Homo sapiens: one gene and its partners. The protein of the gene in region 4 purifies or fractionates together with the protein of the main gene of each other region. This does not show direct contact. Each region holds a gene or a part of one and is shown on either strand. Other genes may lie near its edges. The genes, in order: CEBPZ, RRP1, TMED8, LRRTM3, ADCY9, PEX11B and NRXN3.

Region 1 (3,500 bases), on a different chromosome or scaffold from region 4:
AATTTACTTTAGTTTTACTAAGATATATTAAGATTAGCAAAATGACGGATTTGTAAATTTTCTTAACAAACACAGACATATCCTTTGATCTTTTCAAAATATGCTGATTAGATTTCATAAAATGAAGCATTTAAAACTAAGGCCACTTCTCCCACTAATGTTCCATGGTCTATTTACACACAGTAGTAGATTATTGAAGTAGATTATTTCATAAAATGAAGCATTTTATGAAATCTAAAAATTTAAATTTTAGCAGTTTCCCCAAATGAAACTATATTATGTATAGTACCTGTGGAAAAACACTTCATCCACTGGTATTTGGCTTTCTTCTTTTGCAAGGAACTCCTTACTGTTCACTACAAAAATAAATTTAAACATTTTAACTTCATATAGCAATCCCCTTTATGTTACTCAAGCTCTTAAGACAAAATACAGCATAATCTGTAATTCTAAAAATCTCAGAATTGTGTGGGAAGGTAGACAGAAGGGACTCTGGAGTGCAAGGGACAATCTCTGAAAAAGTCTGTGTGAAGACCCCCCCAACATTTGAAACTTCACTGGCTACAGCATAAAGTAGGCAGTACATAGCTGTCAGTGCCGTTACAGTGAAACAACAGGGTTCTCTTACTGTTCTTCATTTGCATCCAGGACCCAACTTTCAAGAGAAATAAAAAATTCAAAGAGTTATTTTAATAAATAATCACTTTAAACTTGTCATTTTCAGCTCAAAAAATGACAAGCTTGCCATTAATGCGTGCCATTCTGGGAATAAACAGGAAGTTAACAGAGTTTTCCTTTATACTGAGGAAAACTAAGAAATAAGGAACTACAAGAAATCAGTTTTACCTCTTCAGAATAAAAATTGCTGACTCATCCTGAGTAAAAGGAGATTTGGCTTTTAATTCTAACTTACTAACTGTGGGTAAGTCCTTTTACATCTCTGGACCTCTGTGAAGTAAGTCACTGGAAATTAAATGATCTATAAGGTCTAATTTAATCCTGGTCTCTGAACAAAAGGGAGATGAGATCTGGTATGCAAAGAAATGTCTGCTTTGAATACAACAACAGACTCAGATCCAGAAGATGGCTAGCAAATATAGAAGTAGGTTATTAAGTTTAAAATGATGCTCTGTGACAAAACCAGCTGTGGGTTTTTGTGCTGCTAAGCTGATATTAGAGAGCTTTAAGATGGTCTGAATTGTAAGCAATAATAATTATATACATAGGGGTTGTGGATGAAGCTACGGATGATAAAATGGTGACAACTGTCAAAGCTGGGTGATGGTAATGGGGAGGGGGTTCATCATACTATTTTGTTTATTTTGGATATGTTTCAAATTTGCTGTAATAAAGTTAAAAAAAAAAAAAAAAAGGCCCAGTCAGATACAGTAGATTTAAGAATACCTATTCTTGGGAAAAAAGATGGATAATGTCTTTGATGCTCAGGTTTTATTCTGATAAATTAGAACAAAGAATAATACAATTTATGCATCTTTGTCTTATATTGTCTTTTCAGTTTCAACTGTCTAAGGTTTATACTTACCAGGAAGATGACGAATATCCTTAATAAAATGTTTTCTTTTCGGCTGCATCACAACACTATCTGTGTTTTCTGAAATGTAAAATTATGACAGTATAATGCAAAACCTAGTTATAAGCTCATATTGTTTATTATGTATTAAAAATGAAAGCCAAATAATTCACTAAATAGAAGCATACCTTTGCCTTTATGGGGCTTTGGATTTCGGTATACAAATCGATCCAAAAATCTCATTAGAGTGAAATCCTGCAGTGGGTCCCCTGAATACTGAATATAGTTTCCCTGAAAAGTGGAGCGGGGATTTAAAAACTTAATTCAAATTATGTCTATGAATCCAAGTAAGAAAAAGGAAGAAAAAGATAATTTCTATTACACTGTATTGAAGATACAAATATGCAATAAATGACTCTTCAAATATCTCTCTCATGCACATTATACTTAAAAAATTAAACACACAGATACATATACATACATATTCTAGGATGTAATGTTGATTTGATGGATAGACTAATATTAATAATGCAGGCCATCTAACCATTAATCAGGAACCAAACCCTGAAGTGGCAAACACAGCAAATGGGAAAGTGAGGCAGTATTTCTCCAGGAGAGGAGCTAGAAGGTAATAAATAAATAACTGCGTGGCTTTCAATGTCTTATTGCTTCCACTCATCTCAGAGTGGGAAAAGTTATCTGCTACTCTGTATGAAACAAGTCACTGCTTCTTTATACGAGCAGTAAAATGTACAAGATTCTCTCTGTTAGAGAAAACACTGTATGACCAATTATTGATTATCTAAAATGATACTTTTTTTCTTATTTCTCATCTTTGGATTTATTTTAGACTCACCTGAAGGATGGTCTTTGCAAAAAGGGCCACGGAGGGATGAAAATGCACAGATAACTAAAAAGAAAAATGTGAATAATATCAATATTTCTAAGGTCGACTCTTAGTACATTTATAGCTTATTTAAGAAAATCGGGCTGGGTGTGGTGGCTCACACCTGTAATTCCAGCACTTTGGGAGGCTCAGGCAGGCAGATTGCTTGAGCCCAGAAGTTGAGACTGGCCTGGGCAATATGGCGAAACCCCATGTCTACAAAAAGTACAAAAATAGTCAGGGTGTGATGGTGCGCGCGTGCCTGTACTCCCAGCTACTCAGGAGGCTAAAGTGGGAGGACTGCCTGGGCCCAGGAGGTCGAGGCTGCAGTGAGCTGACATGGCACCACTGCACTCCAGCCTGGGTGACAGAGTGAGACCCTATTTCAACAACAACAAAAATGAAAATGCAAAAATTTGAAATTTAAGCCAATACATTAAAAAAGTGATTCTCAAAACATATTGGTCTCAGGACCATTTCCTACACTTAAAAACCAAAAATTCCATCAGTTTCTATTCAACAGGTTTATATCTACAGACACCTATGTTATAAAAATAAACAGAAAAATTGTAAATACTTATAGGTCCATTAAAAATAACAATAAAGCGGCCAGGCGCGGTGGCTCATGCCTGTAATCCCAGCACCTTGGGAGGCTGAGGTGGGCGGATCACGAGGTCAGGAGATCGAGACCATCCTGGCTAACATGGTGAAACCCCATCTCTACTAAAAATACAAAAAATTAGCCGGGCGTGGTGGCGGGTGCCTGTAGTCCCAGCTACTCGGGAGGCTGAGGCAGGAGAATGGTGTGAACCTGGGAGGCGGAACTTGGAGTGAGCCGAGATCGCGCCACTGCACTCTGGCCTAGGCAACAGAGCAAGACTCTGTCTCAAAAAAAAAAAACAAAAAACAAAAACAAAAACCATAAAGCTACTACATACTAGTAAGTAGCATATTTATGAAAAATAATTATGCAGCCAGGCGAGGTGGCTCATGCCTGTAATCCCAGCATTTTGGGAGGCCGAGGCGGGCGGATCACGAGGTCAGGAGATCGAGACCATCCTGGCTAACACGGTGAAACCCCGT
Region 2 (3,108 bases), on a different chromosome or scaffold from region 4:
GACGGAGGCACGGAAGGAGGCAGCCCAGCCAGGAGGATGTCTCCAGACCGGGAGGGAGGGCAGCGCACACAGCTCGGGGGAGCTGCAGACAAGGAAGGTGGGTGGGGGAGGCAGGGAGAGGCCTACAGGAGGGATGCCGAGGACAGGGCATTTCCGGGATGCGTGGATAGCAGGCACCCAGGATGGGGGACTCGGCACTCATGCTTCAGGGGGAGACACTGCAGGTGACCCCCATCCAGGGGAGAAGCAAGCAGGTGAGGACGCCGGCTCCATGACTAACACACCCCCTAGTCCTACCTCTCTCCTGCTGCAACCTGAGCAGACGCTTCTGCTTCTTCGTCTTCTTCTGCCGCCTCCCTTCAAGCAGGCGCCTGCAGGCCTTCTCTGGGATCTCATCTTCAGGGAAAATGCCTGAGAACCAGGGCAGAAGTCAGGGGGCTCTCGGGGGCTGGGGACTTATGGTTTGAGGCTCGCTGCTTCCAGCAGGCCCCAGCCAGCACCACCTCCTGACAATGTGTGTGAGAAAGCGCCCTGTTCTAATGCCCAGGAGCAGCGTGTTCAGTACCCGCCACAGCTGAAACGAACCAGCTGAGACCCAAGCCCATCTGGAAAAGCCAGTTCCTGGAGCATCCAGGACACAGGTACAGCATAGAGCGTCCACGACCCCAAATGCCTGGGACCAGCAGTGCTTTGAATGTCAGGTTGTTTTGGAACGTCTGCATCATATTCACCAGTTCAACAGCCCTCACCTGAAAACCCCAAACAGAAAACACTGCGACGAGCATTTCCCTGGAGCTTCCTGTCAGCACTCAGCTTTGGACTTGGTGGCATTTTGGATTTGGGGTTTCAGATTAGAGACGCTCAACCTGTACACCAAAGTCTACAGCCTACAATGCTCATGCTGGCGGCCCAAGGCAACTTTCTGCATCAAAACCTGCCAGATGCACACGATCCTCACGCACCTCACTGACGCGCGCTGTCCCGAAAACCCCAGACGACCAGCCGGGCAACACAGCGAAACCCTGTCTCTACAAAAAATACAACAATTAGCCGGCGTGGTGGCGTGCGCCTGTGGTCCCAGCGACTGGGAGGCTGAGGCGGGAGGATCGCTTGAGACCAGGAGATCGAGGCTGCAGTGAGCTGCATCACACCACTGCACGCCATCCTGGGCAACAGAGCGAGACACCGCCTCAAAAAATAAAAAATAAAAAAACCAAACCCTGGACTACAGCTGATGACGCGCCCGCTGGCGGATGCAGGGGTGTGATGCTGGGATAGAGGAGCTTCACGCAAGGACAGGAAGTGCTGATGCTGGAGGCCGGCAGGGACACGCAGACATCCACTATAAAATCCTTCCAACTGAGTTGCAGGTCTGAAACTTTTCATAAGGAAACACCAGGGGAAACGCCTACGTCTCTAACCATCGACGCCCACTAGGAAACCGTCCTTCCGATAACCTATGCCAGTTCCATCCGCCACGCGCTGCCAAGAACAGACGTGTGCTGCCCAACAGACCAGCAGCAGCACCGCGGTCAGTGCTTGGGAGCCCCTGAGGCCAGCACCCCATCTCTCAGGCTCTGGGGCACTCCAATGGACACTCAAGTCTGAGAACCACTCAGCAAAAACCACAAAAACGAGAGCTGTGGAACCCTGCGCCCTGCCTCCCTGTCCCTCAGAAACACCACCAGGCCTCTCTGCAAAGAGACTCCACGTGCTATGAGACCCCTAGAACCAAACCACTCCCACGAGGATGGAGCTCCACCTCCAAGGTGGTGCCACTGTCAGTGCCCGGCCGATCCTCACCTCCTGCCAGGTCCTGCAGCCTGAAAGAGTAAGACAGATACCCACTTACCACAGCTGCGGCTTCCGCAGGAGGAGGAAGCTCCAGCTAGAGCGGCTGCAGGTTCCTAGCCAGGGGAACCCCAGGGGCTGGGGACGGTCTCAGGGTCCTAGCGGGGATCACCCCGGGGGCTGCGGAAGGGCCCAGGACAAGGCAAAGGCACCCAGATCTGAGCAAGAAAGGGCAACTCCAAGGGGAGCAGGGAGGACGCAGCGCCCTCACACACTCACTTCCGGATCACTTTGTAGAGACGCTTTCTGTTCTGAGAAGGGGTGCTCTGGCGGCTGGCCATTTCAAACAGTCTGTTAGCAACTGCCTCGTAGTCAAACTGTTTCAAAAGAGAGACGTCACAGAGGCAAGGTCAGCCACGCTCTGCGTGCTCCGAGAACGTGGAACCCCTGAGACCCAGATAGCACTTGGTCCCACTTGCAGGTTCTCCACCCGGCTCACAGGAACACAGCCCACCCTCACTGAGGGTCCTGCAGCTCCACCCACTCTACAGCACAGCGGGCACCACACAAGCTGCGGGCGCACTGCGGGGCACGCACTGCGGGGCACACTCTGGAAGATGCACACTGCGGGGCACACTGCAGGGCACACGCCCGCCGGTAGCCTGCCTGCAGCTTTACCACTCTAGGAACCACACAGACAAGCACGAACAACATAGGTTAAATTGATCAATTTTAACCCAAGATAGCCACATTTTATTCAGTCTGCAGATAATCATATTTAAAACTTAAAACATTTAAGTTTCCAATTTGCCTGAAGTCAGACCCCACTGGCTGAGTGGATTCCTCGCTGGGACCCACAGGCCAGCCGCTTGGCACATGCCATCTCATTCCCCACCAGCACCCCAACGAGGGGGCCGCAGGAAATCTGGGGGGCTGCCCATGTGTGAGGCAAGAGGACAGCGTGAGGTGAGGCCAGCCCTGGATAATGCAGTTCTGCCTGAGCCCACCCTCCCAGGCCCCAGCCCCACTTTCCCAGGCCCCAGCCCCACTCTCAATGATCCCACTCGTCTACAGGCGGGCAGGGTTGGGGCACCCATCCCTCCTTCAAAGCTAACCCCTGTCCGGGTAACTCTCCATGCCAACAGCTGCCATCCTCCCTCCTAACGCCCCCCTCCTCTTCCAGAGCAAGCGGTAGCACAGAGGGGCAAAGGCTGAGGGCACAGCCATGAGCCCAGGGAACCCACCTGGAGAACGGGGCCGCCACTGTCCCTGTCGTCACCTGCCTGCTCCTCACCAGCCTCAGGTTCAGCCCTGCAG
Region 3 (3,500 bases), on a different chromosome or scaffold from region 4:
CTCTTAGAATTTGCTGGGCTGTGGGTTCTCAGTAATTACCTGTGCTTCAGTAAGTAGTATCTTGCCCCTAAAGTTCAATTATTTCAGAAATGTAACATGAAAATAGTGAATTAGACAGTGAAAATATCTTCTTTTAGCTATTTTGTGCTAATGGAACACAGAAACCCTGACAGTTGGTGAAAAACCAGTATGAATGAAATGTAACCATGCCCAGGACTTCAAAAGTGACCAGACCCTAAGAGGCACACAGAGGTGAGGGGAACAAGTCCCTTAGGCTTCCCTGATGCAACAGAACTAGGATTCCAAAGAAAATAAGCAGAGAATCTCATGGTGAAAATAAATAATAACAAGTGTTATCCTTGGGAGCTTGCTGTGTATGGCCTGACTGTTTCAATTTGAGAGAAAGGCAGAAGTTAATAATAAACAGGAAAAATAAGCAAGGCTTTAGCTGACTAGAAAACAGCTCAGTAGAAAATTATTTTACAAAGATTATATTCAGTTAGCTAAGGCATGATTCAACTTCAATGATGCAAGAGCGGTCACTCAGCTATCCAATGGGATGACACACAGCAAATCAGCTCTTCACTGCCTCAACAGACAGTCACTAAAATAATTTCTTTAAAGGTATATAAATGTTGGCCAGTGTAATCCTCTACAAAACACATTTGCAAATATAAAATAATGGAGGTATGATGCTGCTCAGAGAATGGGAATGCTCTGGCAGTCCCCAACATCCTATCCCACTTGGGGCTTTGCTCCGAGGGGAAGAGCAGGTGCAGGATATATTGCCCTTTGATGTGATGTAGATGCTACTAGGGACCCACTGGGAAGAGTCCCGTTCCTTGAGTTATGCTACTGTAGGGATAGACCCTTGGTGTGAGGAATCTAACAATGAGTCAAAGGAAACATCACAAAGAAGGTGACACCTCAGAGGAGACAAAGGACTCTGAAATCCTGGAATCACGGGATATCTCTGATTGGTTAGGGAATTCCTCTGCACTCAATCTCCAGCAAATGGGCAGATTCCCTCACAACTTAGAATTTTTCATGGGGAGTGCTGGACTGTACCCCAAACATGGAGTAAGGTGGCATCATCCATCTCTGAAGGGCCATACTCCTCGCAAAGCCGTCACAGGACTGACCTACAGAAATAAAACATCATCGCTTCCCAAATTCTCCTAAAAATATCATCTTTAACTCCATAAAAGAGGGGGCTTCAGTGGCTCAGAACAGATGGGAAGCCTTCTGAGAAACAGATGGAAACTGTTTCAAAGGCAAAATGAAATGTGCTAAAAAAATAAATACAGTAATAAATAAATCTAATTATTCTTCAGAATTCGTAGGCAGTAACAGACATAACACGAGGAGTAAGAGACAGGGAGGTACAAACACAGAGACTGCTGAGGTCCCATCTCACCTCCGTCTCCTCCTCCGCCTGGGGGCCCAGCAGCTGGTGCTCTGGTGACCACTGGCTGCAGCACTACCTGCACTCTGTGGCACTCCTGAGCCTCAGGGGTGACACAGTAGGAAATGCTGTCACCAGGGAAATGCAAGCTTTGGTCAGGTAAAGAACAAATACAATCAGCAGCAATAGTGAAGCTTCATTATCACCTAAACTAAGGGACTTTGAACACCAAAAGCTTTAAGCCCTCAATGCAAGAAAGCTAAATGCAGAAACTTTGGAAACCTGATTGGGTTTCACTGCATTTGATTCCAAAGCAACATTTCTAAACAGCACTCCTACTCTAAAGACAAAAAAAAGCGGTGGGGACTCTGGAGTGTTTTTTGTTTTTCATCTTCTCTGTCAGATGATACCATTCCTTCTTTGATTATACCAAAAAAAAAAAAAAAAGTAACACGACTTTCAAATATGTGGGTTCTGACATCAATTCAGTACCTAATTTCCACTCTCTCCACTTTGACTGCCAGTGCCCATAGTAAGGGAAACCAGCTCTTGGAATAGGAAATAATGGGGGCAGTTTTTCTTCCCACAAGATCTTAGGTTACATTGATCATCACTTGAGATTGCATGAATGTTCTTGCTGTAATGGCAAAAACATAGACTTAGGAAAGAGAAAGGAGGGGGTGTCTACCATCAGGAATAGTAATAGCCCTCCAAAGGCAGTGTGGTCTCCCAGCTATGCAGAGACCAAGAATAACCAGCAGGCAGGAATATGGCAGTGGTGACAGGCTGGATAGAGCTTTCTCCAACCAAAAGATGGGGCTCCTTCATGGGCAATGTGCTTTTCCCTCTTCTGGCACCTCAACAACTGAAGAGAGTGGGTGCCACTAAATGCACTGGCAATAAGGGCTGTGGGAGAGGAGAGGGCAGCAATCTGAATGATAAACCTGTGCCAAGATGAATCTATTTTTAAAAAACATCGCCCTGCTTCCTTTTAGGCTTGTGCCCCATAGGTGCCTTCAAGAGGGAATTTGCTGGAGTCTGAAGCAAGAAGGGTATGAGTCAGGGACTACAGAACAGGGGCACTACACCACCACCTGCAGAAGCCAAGAAGGGGAAAAAGCTACGTGGGCCAACAGTCAGGCATGCCAGACAGGGTGTGAGGCTCAGCAGCCCCCCATGAACCTTTGGCTCTTGCCTATCCCAAACAAGAGGCACCAGCTGGCAGCCTGCTTCAGCCAGCAAATACAGCCTGCCCCTGTCCCAGCAGTCCTTCAGCTGGTGTAGTAGATGTGGAAGTAGAGAGTCTTGTTGCGCAGCAGGGAGTAGGAGTTGTCGAACTTGAGCAGGTAGATGCCCTCACCAGGGTAGTCATGGCTGCCAGCCTGCACGTCTCGGTGGCTGTCCCGCCGGTACACAGGCATGACCTCCCCATAGCGACCCCGCAAGGAGCTCCTGGAGCCTCTCTCCACATCTCCAGCTGGAACGGGTTCTGCGTGAGCAAAATGGCAAAGTGTTCAGAGACTGCGTAAGTCCTGCCTGAAGGTGAGCGGAAGGACCAGGTGACCCAGTGGCTTTCACAGAGCGGGGAGATTATTGCCCTCCTACAGACATTTGGAAATGTCTGGTGATCTTTTGGTCATCACAGTGACTATTAGGTGATATCTGCATTTAGTACCCAAGGGTCCAGGAGTGCTAAAATCAGGATAGTACCTACACAACAAACAATGTCCCATCCCAAATGCCAATAATGTCTCCACTGAGAAAATGATTTAGCCTGAGAGGAGCCTTCCTAGCTTCAGAAGTGTCTGGACATTTCTGAGAGGGAGAAAGAGATATTTAGAAGAAAAGATCCCGATATTCTATCATTTAGTAGGTGAAAGGACTAGCTAACGAAGATAGGAATTGCAGATAAACGTGCTATAAAGTGACCCTAGGATTCCTGAAAAGCAGCAAATAAGATACAAGGTTCTCCGCTTTCCCAGATACCTGTAGGTTTCCCTGCCCGCTTGCTGTTCTATGAAGAAGCACGTTAAAGGACTGACTTTAAGATTATATAAGAAAATCAAGGAATAAGAGGAATAAGACTAATGCTTAG
Region 4 (3,500 bases):
GCTGGAAGGAACACTATACTGGCAGATTAGACTTTAACTAGCAGAGGGATGTTCTAATGGTAAATCATCGGAAATTATTTCCTAAAGGGATCTGGAGATGCATGATTTGGCTTTGAGAAGCCTTTTGTGGGTGGGGTATAAATTATTTTAGAGCAGTCCTATAAAGAAGTGAAAATGTATAGGATTAATGAGTGAAACTTACAGGAAGACAGACTCAATATAAAGGGCTCTGTTCTTATATTTTAAGGAAAACTATCTGAGTTTACGAAACGCATAAAACACTTTTTATCAAATCATTAGATAATATATACAAATTCCTGGTACATAATAAGGACTCAATTATACCAAAATATCTTCACATTATAGGAAAAATATTCACCTAATAGGAAAATATATATATATTTTTTTAGGCATGTACAACATACGTACCTTGGTGGAAATACAAATACGTATGTAATATGTCCTCTGCCATATTAGAAAGATCTTTAAATATTCCATTTTAATCATAATTCAGTGATGTTACCTAACCCTCTATTGGTGCCAGTACACAAACCAAGTATTTATACCTTTCACATTAAAATTTTGAATACATTAGGCAAAATCCCTTTCATAAATTGACAAGTACATGCCAACACTAATCTCAAAGCGCTGAATTTTAAACTTCTTGGAGAGTTTTCACTATGGTAAACTTCCTAGAGTTTTCACCGTTATAACTATTTTCACTGTTGTACCTTAGAGAGGTTTCACTGTTGTAATCTTGTCACACATTTATCAGAATTTTAAAAGCTACTCTACTTTTTCAATATCAACATGATGCATTCTACAAGTTTCCTTTAAAGCTCTTGTGAGATTCTGGTTGACTGCATCAAATATTAATGAGGGAAACTTATAGGAAGACAGTCAATATGAGGGCTCTGTTGGTAAGCATATTCTTTCTTTTAGAAAGTACATAGATCAATATTAATGACAAGGAGCACTTTTTTAGCTACATGAGGGCCACCCAGTTGAAGCTATGAACACCACTCAAGGTAGCATAGCCTCATGATACTGTAGCTTCACTGTCTGATGACATTTTCATTCTGCTCCCACTTCATTAATAAGCTTTAGCACCAAGAATGCTGACTAAGGATTTACATTTAATTGAAGTCATTGCCTCCTTACTGACAAAATGTATTTTCCACCCTGCATAGATGTAATTGATGTGATGAAATGTCAACAAAAATTGCCTTTGCTAAATGTAGTATTTGCCTTACTATTTTATATGCCAGGCCAAAAAAACTATATTTTACCCTTGAGAAGACAAAATTCTGATTGTTGGAAAGAGTGTTTCTGATTGGTGAAATATAGTTGAGTACCCCTATACATAAAGTCCTATACTTTGTTTTCTAGGAATTAGCTAATTAAGGAGGAAAACAGTAAGCTTTAATACTTTGTAAGACTGTAATTCAACTATATATCCTGTTTTTTCAATTGCAAATCATAATATACTGTAGAGGTGTTTTATAGATTGTAGAGGAAAGAGAAGTGTCAGCCAGCTTTAAATTTGTTTTATGTCCTAATATTTAATGCAAGTGTGTAACTTTTCTTTTGGAGATAATGCTGCTCTTTTGAGCCAAATGACTGAATTGTGTTGGTTTATAAAGGAAGACATTTTTTGGTGATATAGGAATTACAGACTCTTTCAAATAAGGAGAACAATTTAAGAGTGAGAGAAAGGATAAATGAGAATCCTGATTGGGAGAAGTGAGAGCCCTTAAAAATAAAAAGAAAACATGGAGAATTGTTAATAAAGTTATTAATTATCATTACAACATTTGCTGGAAAGGATAAGATAGAAGCTGTTTTTCTTTTTTTTCAATAAAATGGATTATTATTGCTTATAGAAGTTCTGTTGTTAGAAAGTATAATTGTAAAATACATTGTACTTGCTTGGTCTTATATCATGTCCCAGATATTCCTGTTCTCTCTGTGTTCCTGGAATTTTCCTCACGTGTTCAGGATCCCTAACTCAAGAGCGTCCATTCATGACCCTATGAAGTTAAAATGTCAGAAAACTCACAACTGCTTCCCCACCTGAAAAACCATCATCCTCTCTCTGATCTTTAGATATGCCATAGGAACTCAGCTGTCAAAGAGGAACAGTCTGTGTCTTCTTAAATGACAAACATTTTGAAAATACACCTGCTACTTCATATTGGTAAGAGCAGCTACATCCAGCGGAGGAAGCCTTTTGTCATTCTTTGATGAATTAATGATGTAATTTTGCATAAGCAATGACATATAAAAGGAAGTCCCTGTACATTTATACCCCTTTTTATCCAGTGATTTTTCAATAATTATAATTGATAAAGTCAATAGTAATTTCTATACTAAGAGGAGATCTTGGGCACAGTCTTCCACTGGAGTGGCCAGGGGAGAAACATCAGAGCAGATATCATGTGACTGATACCTGGAATGCGTGCTAATCCTACAGTAACATGTTATATGCAATTACTTTTTGCTCAATAATGATGTCATGTTGCCATATAAACATTATATTGATCCAGTGTAAAGTCAACAAGGATTGAACACAATGATACTAGAAAGGGAGTGGACAGGTAAACGTCCTGATTGAAAGCCCTTGCTATAGTTGCCTGATCTGAAATACAAGTAGAATTTTCAATGTGTTTGATAATTATTTGTTTTAGTGTTCGCTGGTCGGTGTCTTTATGTCTGTTGTACATTGTGATAATCAGTATAAAAATCATAGACTTAGATAACATGAGGTGGAAGAAGCTGTGCCTATGTGAAAACAGAAAGTCAAAGACGATGTTCTAGACTTCTAATGATGTAAAATGGGCTTGGGGTTCTGTAACATGGAGGTTACTGATTTCTTTTTGGCTCATGCCAAACATAGAACAACAAACCCCACTCAGTATCTCACTAAGGGCTTTTTGAAAAGAAGAGGTAGTTGCCATTTTAGAGTTTACAAAGTACTTTTCACATTTCGTCCTCCCAATTACCATGAGCAGTCAATAGTACACATCTGTGTTACATATGAGAAACTTCAAATTCAGAAAAGCCAGGAAATGTACCTGTGATGACTTGATTAGCAAGTGTCAAAGGAACTTGAATTTAGGTCTTAATTTCTAAGGCCCGTATTCTACCATGCCTGGCTGTGATATTTCCCTCAAATGCAAAAGAATCATAAATTATTGTTATTTAGATTTTATTGGTAGTATTAAGTATCCAAAATCATCACCAACTTTTGGAGGCTAAAAGAATTTGGGTCCAATTCTGTAGGCTATTATGATTAGGAAAGCAGTGACTTTCACCTATGTATTATTATTATTTCTTTAATTCATTTTTAATTAGAGCTATTTGATACAAACTATTTAACATCCATCCATTTTATTTCTCTTAAAACTTGTGTCATTCAAATTTACCTATATATTCTGTTGTGCTCATTGTTTCCCCCAACTGCCTCTGATTTTTAGTGTAGGTAGCTAGGAGAATACAAC
Region 5 (3,500 bases), on a different chromosome or scaffold from region 4:
CAGGACAAGGAAGGCCATGGGTAGCGTGGGAAGGAGTTTGCATTTGACCCCATAGGTGTCAGGGAACCACTCAACAGGGGGCTTAGGTGATCTGACTTGCAGTTTTAGAAAGTTCACTCTTTCAGAGCTAGTGAGTGTGGGTTGGAAAGAGATTAATGAGGTGTCGAGTAAATCCCAGGTAGGGGTGATGGTGGCCCAATCCAAAGTTACAGTAGCAGTGATGGAGGTGATGGGATCTGAGTGGCATTAGGAAGAGCAGCTTGATGGGACTGCAAGCCAGATTTAAACAAACGACTGGCAGGAGGGGAAGGGCTTGACCATGTGAATGGGAAATGGCATTTTAAGTTTCTGGAAGTGACTTGGCGACAATGTGGAGTCAGGAATGGGTGAGGGGCCTTTGAAGTTGCTATGGTATGAATGGAGAATGCAGGATGGACTTGCAGAGTACAGAGGCCCGGAACCCCTGGCTTGCTTACTCATTCAGCAAATCATTTACTCCGTGCCAGGCACGGTTCTGGGTTCTGGCAATACAGCCGTAAACAAAACAGACAACAATTCCTGCTCTTGTAATAGGGGACAAGAATTTTTAAGTCAATAATATAGGAGGATCGCTGGAGCCCACGAGGTCGAGGTTGCAGAGAGCCGTGATTGCACCACTGCATTCCAGCCTGGGCGACAGAGTGAGACCCTGTCTCTAAGAAACAAAAACCAGGCCTTCAAATAGGGGAGATCTAATAGAGGGGACAACAGGGGAGTCAAACCATAAATAAGTAAAATAGAAAAAGTGTTTTGTGAACAAACATAAAGCAGGAAGGGGATACAGCAGATGGGGTGTACGAGTGTGAGAAATCTTATCTAGGGTGGCCAGTCACTGGGAGAAGGTTGCAGGAATTTTTAGCATACTGCTAGGATTTTGGAAATAATCTAAAAAGTGAGGGGCCAGGCATGGTGGCTCATGCCTGTAATCTCAACACTTTGGGAGGCCGAGGTAGGCGGATCACCTGAGGTCAGGAGTTTGAGACCAGCCTGGCCAACGTGGTGAAACCCCATATTTACTAAAAATACAAAAATTAACCAGGTGTGGTGGCAGGTACCTGTAATCCCAGCTACTCGGGATGCTGAGGCAGGAGAATTGCTTGAACCTGGGAGACGGAGGTTGCAGTGAGCCAAGATTGCACCATTGCACTCCAGCCTGGGCGACAAGAATGAGACCCTGTCTCAAAAAAAAAAAAAAAAGTGTGAGGGACAGTTATTAAAGATATGGAGAAATGGGCCGGGCGTGGTGGCTCATGCCTGTAATCCCAGCACTTTGGGAGACCGAGGTGGGCAGATCAGGAGGTCAGGAGTTTGAGACCAGCCTGACCAACATGGTGAAACCCTGTCTCTACTGAAAATGCAAAAATTGGCTGGGTGTGGTCGCAGGCGCCTTTAGTCCCAGCCACTTGGGAAGCTGAGGCAGGAGAATCGTTCGAACCCAGGAGGTGGAGTTTGCAGTGAGCCGAGATCGTGCCATTGCACTCCAGCCTGGGCGATAGGGCGAGACTTTGTCGCCAAAAAAAAAAAAAAAAAAAAAAAAAAAAAATGAAGAAACGGTCTGATTAAGGTGAGGGACCTTCCACAGCATTTGGGATGAAACCGCTAGGCCTGAGGGAACCGTGGCTGTTGTATTCTGCCTTGGGCCACAAGCAAAAAATGGTGAGACGTGTTATCTCGAGCTGTTGGCTTTTCCTGTCATAGATACAGGGTCACAAAGACAGAAAATGAAACTGTTAGAAAATATCTACAGGCATCTTCTTTTCCCGTGTAAATATTAGGAAGACAGAATGAAGATGCTCCTCCGCTCTCATCCACACCCATGGTCATATCTCTGAAGAGGGGAATACCAGGGAGTGATCACATTGTCAGATGCAGAAATTAAAAAAGCTTTTTTCCCCAGCCAAACTTTATGCTTGTGGAGCAACTTGGGGAGGAGACCCGCTGGTATGCATTTGGGCAGATTGTCACCTGTTGGCCACCTCTGTGATCGAGACCTTTGCCTTAGAGGAGTTCCTATGTAGACCCTGTCTGGTGGGCCGACAGACCGACAGTGGACGGAGGCATTCTGTATGCGTTAGCCTCTGCAAACAAACACCTGTCTCATGCCGGAAATCTGGGCGCCCCATTAACCCTGAGCACGGGCCTGCCAGCTGACAGAACCCTAGCCAGGTGTTGGTTTGGGGTTCAGTTGCATGCTCAGGTGTTCCCCTTCCTTCCCCCGTTAGCTTGTCCCCACCTAAGCCTGCAACCCTTGCCACTGGGATGCTAACCCGTTAGCAGAGCTCAGTCTCCTTGCTTGGAAATTCTGTGTTGACCTGCACTGCATTCTTTTTTTTTTTTTTTTTTTTTTTTTTTTGAGACAGAGTCTGGCTGTGTCACCCAGGCTGGAATGCCATGGCGTGATCTCAGCTTACTGCAACCTCTGCCTCCCAGGTTCAAGCGGTTCTCCTGCCTCAGCCTCCCAAATAGCTGGGATTACAGGTGTGCGCCACCACGCCCGGCTAATTTTTGTATTTTTAGTAGAGATGGGGTTTCACCATGTAGGCCAGGCCGGTCTTGAACTCCTGACCTCAGGTGATCCACCAGCCTCAGCCTCCCAAAGGGCTGGGATTACAGGCGTGAGCCACCACGCCCAGCCTTGACCTGCATTCTTGAGCAGGATCTGTTATGCACGTGGAAATACAGCCTCTCAGATAGCAAATGGCAGAGATGAGATGAGGCACACAGTTCCCCTCCACAGCTGGGGTGGGAGACAGAAAACAGCAGTAGAGTCGACACTCAAGCTGCCCCCAGTGACCATTTGTTCAGGCTCTTTGAGACCTGGCTTACAGTGACAAGGACACAGCTGTTAATTCTGAAGACAAGCTTTCGAGTAGAAGTAACCTCTGGTAAAGCAAGAGAAGGTTAAGGTTTGCTGAATTGCCAATGGGATGAAGAAGGAAGGGAGGGCTGTCTTTTCAGGTAGAATGCCTAAGGAAGGGAAACATGGAGAAGGAACAATTAGAGCAAGTCAAGAAGTTTCAAGATTTTTGTCTTCTGGCCAGCTTGGTGAGATAGTAATTATGTTTCTGCATATTGGTCAGCGTTGCCTATGTACTTTGCTGTGGAATAGTAATCTTGGAAAAAAACCAACCAACCAACCCACATTAATCTGTCCATGTCTGGGCACAGAGTGTGCAGAAGCCTGCGTGGGCCGTAAGTCTCGTCTTTGTCTTGGTTGGTGATTTTAGTATTGGTGTTTTTGCTGGAATTCCAAAACTGTAAGAGTGTAATCATTCACCATTAGAATTCTGCAGGTCCCCTCCTGACTCTGGACTAGCTGAGCTTAGGGGCCTGTCATCCATCTGGCCCTGGGCATATCATTTGTACTTTGCCTGTGACACACCTCAAGACCTTTTCCAACAGGAACTAGCATCCCTGGAGGGAATTTTGTGAAGAGATGAGAGTTTTTGAAACAGGAAGGG
Region 6 (2,434 bases), on a different chromosome or scaffold from region 4:
CCAGGAAGGTAGATCTTAAGTGTTCTTACCATAAAAGAAAAAAGGTAATTATGTGAGGTGATGGATATGTTAATTAGCTTGACTGTGGTGATCATGTCACAACGTACATGTACAAACATCGAGCTATAACTCCTTAAATATATGTAATTTCTATTTGTCAATTATGTCCCAATAAAAATGAAGAAACAAAGTCCTCCCAACATTCTGTAACTAATACATGTTTATGTGCACCTTAAGATCCTGGTTTAAACTCCATGAGCATCATGAAATCTTCCAAGGTCAATCTCAAATTTCATTTTCCACTTGGCAACACACACACACACACACACACACACACACACACACTCTCCATCTCTCTCTCAACTTGACCTATAACAAGGCAAACTTGTTTTGAAAGAACAAATTTCAGATGTCTCAGAGACTCAAACATATTAAAGGTGATCTAAATCCAATCCCTATTCCTTTAGAGGCCCAGAGGTTTAAGTAATTGCCAAATGTGTTAAATTATAAATTTCTTCAGTAAAAAATCCATGTTTTTTATTTGTAATCCAATCTGACAATGGTGGTCTGTACTCAATAACTTGTACTACCTTCAAAGTATATCCTGAACCCAACCAACCACATCTCTCTATCACACCGCACTGCCATACTCTAAGCCACTAACATCTCTTGTCTGGACTTCTGCTTTAATGTTTTAACTGGTCTCACTGTGGCCATTGTTGCCCCCACCCCCAACAATCTATTTTCATATAATAGCTAGCATAAACATAAATCACATCATTACTTCCCTTCTTAAAACTCTCCATGGTTGGCCAGGCGTGGTGGCTCACGCCTATAATCCCAGCACTTCGGGAGGTGGAGGCAAGTGGATCATGAGGTCAGGAGTTGGAGACTAGCCTGACCAACGTGGTGAAACCCTGTCTCTACTAAAAATACAAAAATTAGCTGGGTGTGGTGGCGCGTGCCTGTAATCCCAGCTACTCAGGAGGCTGAGGCAGCAGAATCACTTGAACCCAAGAGATGGACGTTGCAGTGAGCTGAGATTGCACCATTGCGCTCCAGCCTGGGCGACAGAGCAAGACTCCATCTCAAAAAAAAAAAAAACCAAAAACAAATAAACAAACCACAGCTCTCCATGGTTTTCTTCCTGTCACATTCATAATAAAATATAAATACCTTAGAGAGGCTTACAGACTCAACATCTGGTCCCTACCCCTCTAACTTTACCTTGTATCATTCTTTCCTGCAATCATTATGCTCCAACCATGTTGGTTTCCTTCTACATTTTAATCCCATCAAGCTTGTTCTTGCCTTAGGACCTTTGCACTACCTATTCCCTCTACCTGGAATATTCTCCCTCCACCTGGAATATTCTCCCTCCAAAACCCTCACATAGCTAGCTCTTTCTTGCTCTTCAGGTATGAGCTTAAGTATCACCTCTTCGGAGACGCCTTCCCTTATCCCTAAATCTAAAGCACTGAGTCAGTTACTCTCTACTCCATAACACTGTTTTAATTTCCTGCATAACATTTACCAGTATCTGATATTTTAATTTATTGTTTATTTATGTTTATCTCATCCCATTACAAGGTAAGTTCCAGAGGAGCAGAGGCCTTGTTTGTCTTTTCTTTTTTTTTGAGACGGTATTTCACTGTTGTTGCCCAGGCTAGAGTACAATGGCACGATCTCGGCTCACCACAAACTCTGCCTCCCGGGTTCAAGCGATTCTCCTGCCTCAACCTCCCGAGTAGCTGGGATTACAGGCATGCGCCACCACACCCGGCTAATTTTGTATTTTTAGTAGAGACGGGGTTTCTCCATGCCGGTCAGGCTGGTCTCAAAACTCCTGACCTCAGGTGATCCGCCCGCCTTGGCCTCCCAAAGTGCTGGGATTACAGGCATGAGCCACCGCACCTGGCCGGCCTTGTTTATCTTTAACCACTGTATCCCTGTATGTACACTGGTGCCTACCATATAGTAAGAGCTCAGTAAGTATCTGTTGGATGAAATGAATAAATATAACATATAGACTCCTTTAGGGAGTTGCTTTTCCATACTGCTCCAGCCATGCCTCTGCTCCCACCCCTCATACATCATAAGCCATGTTAAAGTTGTAAATCACTGAGAAAGATGAAGGGAAAAGCAAGGTTAATATAATGAAAAAGTACAATCATAGGAAAACGAAAAACAATACAGATAATATGTTAGAGAATTTTACTCCCACATCATATTTCTCTCTACCTTTATTGTCAGCTACCTCCTTTGTCCAAGCCAACGTCATCTCTTGCTCGTATTAGGGCATCTCCTCCTCTCTTGACCCACTGCAATCCATTTTCTTTTCTTTTCTTTTCTTTTTTTTTTTTTTTTGAGATGGAGTCTTGCTCTTGTCACCTAGGCTGGAGTGCAATAGCACGATCTCGGCTCACTGCAACCT
Region 7 (3,500 bases), on a different chromosome or scaffold from region 4:
CCTTAGTAAAATACCAGAAACAACCTAAATGACCATCAATAGCAGATGGCACAGCGTTATAATGGAATATTAGGCAGGCCTTGCAAACAAGGTATTGCTTTTGGTTTTGATGTGGAAGCTCTCCAGGTCACATTGTTAAGTGAAATTGTCAAGGAACAGGATAGAGGGTGCATTATGTTATCATTGTGTAAAAGTGTGGGGGCGTGGGGGCATTATATGTATATATGCTCCAGTAAGCATAAAGTCTCTTTGGAACTATAAAATTGTCATTGGGGAGTATATTTGCGGGATTAATATTCTGGAGTGGGAGGGTGACTTACTTTTCACTGTGCCCTCTTACAGTGTTAGACTTTTTTTCAACCATGTGGATATATTACTTGAAAGAAAAGAGTAAGTGTTAAAAGCTGGTGGGGACAGAGGTCTGTTTTTGTTTTTATTTTTTGCACATTGCATGTGCCCTCTGTACAGTGGTAGAATGAGACACCCTGAAGCCCTATTTCAGCCAGTCAGTCAAGGACATTGATTTAGTTGAGAGTCTGATTTTACAAAGAATACTGAACCAGATACTAATTCACCTTGCAAGGGGGTCCAGCAGAGCTTTCTGCCTCCATGCCCTACCCAAGGTTAGTGTACACTTCTGCAAAGCCATGGCCACTGTCCTGCAGAGTGGGTAGGTAGGTGGAGAACGTGAGGATGGCAGTTAAAAAAATCTGTTATGACTGTCTAACAGCCACTATGGAAAACAGTGTGGAGATCCCTTAAAGAACTAAAAGTAGAACTACCATTTGATCCAGCAATCCCACTACTGGGTATCTACCCAGAGGAAAAGAAGTCATTATAAGAAAAAGATACTTGCACAGGCATGTGTATAGCAGCACAATTTCCAATTGCAAAATTGTGGAACCAACCCAAACGTTCATCAATCAACAAGTGGATCAAGAAAATGTGATATATATATATGAATACTACTCAGCCATAAAAAGGAATGAATTAATGGCATTTGCAGTGACCTGGATAAGACTGGAAACTATTATTCTAAGTGAAGTAACTCAGGAATGGAAAACCGAACATTGTATGTTCTCACTGATATGTGGGAGCTAAGCTATGAAGACGCAAAGGCATAAGAATGATACATGGACTTTGGGGACTTGAGGGGAAGGGTGTGATGAGGGTGAGGAATAAAAGACTACAAATAGGGTGCAGTGTATACTGCTTGGGTGATGAGTGCACCAAAATCGCACAAATAACCACTTAAGAACTTATTCATGTAACCAAACACCACCTGAACCCCAATAACCTATGGGAAAAAAATCTGTTATGACTTTCTAAACCAGGTATAATCCATCTAAAAGCAGAAATTAATCTTTCTCCATGAAATTAGAATTTCAAAAAAGTTTTACTCTTATTTGAACTGAAATTTGATACAGTACCCTGGAATGGTTTTTGGCGCTCTGATCTCTGAGCAATGTCGTATCCATAAAAACTTAATAAGCAGAAAACAATGGAAGGGAAATAGACAAGGATCTGAGTATTGAGCGTCCCAACTATTTTCCTATTTTCTTTATATTACCTTATTCAAATTCTAAGTCAGGACCCAGATTTAGGTTTGAATTCCACATTTACTACTTACAAGCTATGTGACTTTGGCAAAGTAAATTTTCTGAGTCTGTTTCCTCTCCTGAAATTGGGAACATAGGAATAAACAAACTATTTATTTTGTAATAATAAAATGATTTAAAACATGTGAAGCACTTAGGAATGCAATATCATAAGGGCACAAAAGTCGCAGCTATTTGGAGGGTTATTGTTAATCTCATTTCGCTATTTCCACAGCCCTGAAAAGGTTGCATTATCATCTCCAAAACAACAATGGCTAATTTCTAAAATAAGCCTCATCTGTCCATATCTGTGAGACAAAGTTAATTGGATGGGTCACTCCAGCACATATCATATAATCCCCAATATTTAAATGTAGAATTAGTTCCCATCTCTCATCACCAGGAGAGAATCAAGCAAAGCTGTTTGCATTCTAATGGATATTACAAGAGTGATATATAACTATGGCGAAGCATTGAAAATGACTCACTATTATGTAACCTTGACCGTGGACCTAACCATAGTCAATAACATTGAAAATAATGATACTAACACTTATTAAGCACCTACCACCAGGCACCATGGTAAGGATTTAACACCTCTCCATCCCATTAGATACAGACAACACCCATTTGAGATACCTGTAATCATTGCCTTATTTTACAGATGCAGAAACAGACACAGAGAGCAGTTAGGGAACCGGCCCACAGGCACACAGCTGATAAGTGGCAGAGCAGGACTTGAACCTAGGCATTTGGGCCCCAGGGTCCATATGCTCAGAACCAGGCCCCACTAGCAGCACCTGTGAGGCTTATCTTTAACATTACATGGAAAGTCATGCATGCTCAACTTCACAATTCAAAAGCTGAATTTTTCATTTTAGCTAAACTGGGCTGACCATGTGCAAAGGGAAATATTGCAGGATCCTCAGGCAATCACTCAAGTGAGTAAACCAGAAAAGAAATCATAAAAGTTTAATGAGTGTCAGCTTCTCCTTTCTAACCTTCACTATTATACCTTAGCATGTGAGAACTCTTTGTCATAAACAAACTTTGGCTTTTTCTGCATTTGGGTTAAATGCCTGTGACTAGAGTTCCTAGTAAAGGTTAATTATTAATGTATAACAATAGGTCATCCCAAAGGGACAGAAGGAGGTTTGGCTCCATGGAACAATAAATAGAAAGAGAGATCAGGCATTGCTACAGCAGGCTGGGGACAGAATAAAAAGGAGGGAAAAAAAAGCCTTTTAACAAGATACAAGAGCAGTGAAGAGGAACTCTTCTGTGAGAAGGGTACCTAACTGAGACTGGGAGAGAAGGTGAATAGCCGGAATGAAGATTTCTGAAGACATAGGTAAGAGAAGCAAGGGCCAGAAACTGGCCAGACAGAGATAACCAGACTTCTCTCAAAGGCTCTTTGAGGGTGAGTGCTCTATCTACTCCATGGCCCTGAAATTACCTGTCTATTTATATGGAGTTTTCACTGTTGTGAATAAAAAGCCAACACCACTCTCACTGACAGCTGAATAACCCTTCTGAGTCCCATTTTATTTATTCCAAAGGTAAGAGCCTCGATATCTGTTCCACAAACTGTCCCTCTTTCCCAGCTCACAGGGCTGTTGTCAAGATCAAGTGGGATGTTAGACATAGTAGGACACAGACAATTCTAAACCGGCACACAAACCTAGGAAGAAATAATCCTATATCTTCATCTCCCATGGTGTTGGGGTTCTGTTGGAAATGGATAGGGTCCTGAATTGAGGTTCTGTGAAGGTTTATCTACCAAGAGGAAAAGGACAGGAGGGCAAGGGACTTGTAGCCCAGTGATGCTCAACTGGGACTCTCCATTGTTAATATCTTCACCTTCCCCACCTGCTCTGTGCAGAACCACAGCCACAGCCACGC

The links.
Region 1: the proteins of LRRTM3 (region 4) and CEBPZ purify together in Homo sapiens (affinity purification with mass spectrometry; one large-scale study listed by BioGRID and IntAct). This does not show direct contact.
Region 2: the proteins of LRRTM3 (region 4) and RRP1 purify together in Homo sapiens (co-immunoprecipitation; one large-scale study listed by IntAct). This does not show direct contact.
Region 3: the proteins of LRRTM3 (region 4) and TMED8 purify together in Homo sapiens (affinity purification with mass spectrometry; one large-scale study listed by BioGRID and IntAct). This does not show direct contact.
Region 5: the proteins of LRRTM3 (region 4) and ADCY9 purify together in Homo sapiens (affinity purification with mass spectrometry; one large-scale study listed by BioGRID and IntAct). This does not show direct contact.
Region 6: the proteins of LRRTM3 (region 4) and PEX11B purify together in Homo sapiens (co-immunoprecipitation; one large-scale study listed by IntAct). This does not show direct contact.
Region 7: the proteins of LRRTM3 (region 4) and NRXN3 purify together in Homo sapiens (affinity purification with mass spectrometry; one large-scale study listed by BioGRID and IntAct). This does not show direct contact.

The regions. Positions count from the first base shown.
Region 1 is NC_000002.12:37,214,597-37,218,096, forward strand, and holds part of CEBPZ (CCAAT/enhancer-binding protein zeta), read right to left. Parts: intron 2,442-3,500; coding exon 2,388-2,441; intron 1,823-2,387; coding exon 1,720-1,822; intron 1,613-1,719; coding exon 1,544-1,612; exon of another isoform or gene 725-1,543; intron 357-724; coding exon 290-356; intron 1-289. UniProt on the Homo sapiens protein: Stimulates transcription from the HSP70 promoter.
Region 2 is NC_000021.9:43,799,577-43,802,684, reverse strand, and holds part of RRP1 (ribosomal RNA processing protein 1 homolog A), read right to left. Parts: coding exon 3,036-3,108; intron 2,169-3,035; coding exon 2,071-2,168; intron 1,824-2,070; coding exon 1,804-1,823; intron 412-1,803; coding exon 298-411; intron 1-297. UniProt on the Homo sapiens protein: Plays a critical role in the generation of 28S rRNA.
Region 3 is NC_000014.9:77,339,095-77,342,594, forward strand, and holds part of TMED8 (protein TMED8), read right to left. Parts: intron 2,895-3,500; coding exon 2,677-2,894; 3' UTR 1-2,676.
Region 4 is NC_000010.11:66,932,536-66,936,035, reverse strand, and holds part of LRRTM3 (leucine-rich repeat transmembrane neuronal protein 3 precursor), read right to left. Parts: intron 1-3,500. UniProt on the Homo sapiens protein: Exhibits a limited synaptogenic activity in vitro, restricted to excitatory presynaptic differentiation. May play a role in the development and maintenance of the vertebrate nervous system.
Region 5 is NC_000016.10:4,106,443-4,109,942, reverse strand, and holds part of ADCY9 (adenylate cyclase type 9), read left to right. Parts: intron 1-3,500. UniProt on the Homo sapiens protein: Adenylyl cyclase that catalyzes the formation of the signaling molecule cAMP in response to activation of G protein-coupled receptors.
Region 6 is NC_000001.11:145,913,284-145,915,717, forward strand, and holds part of PEX11B (peroxisomal membrane protein 11B), read right to left. Parts: intron 1-2,434. UniProt on the Homo sapiens protein: Involved in peroxisomal proliferation. May regulate peroxisome division by recruiting the dynamin-related GTPase DNM1L to the peroxisomal membrane. Promotes membrane protrusion and elongation on the peroxisomal surface.
Region 7 is NC_000014.9:78,705,373-78,708,872, reverse strand, and holds part of NRXN3 (neurexin 3), read right to left. Parts: intron 92-3,500; exon of another isoform or gene 1-91. UniProt on the Homo sapiens protein: Neuronal cell surface protein that may be involved in cell recognition and cell adhesion. May mediate intracellular signaling. Functions as part of a trans-synaptic complex by binding to cerebellins and postsynaptic GRID1.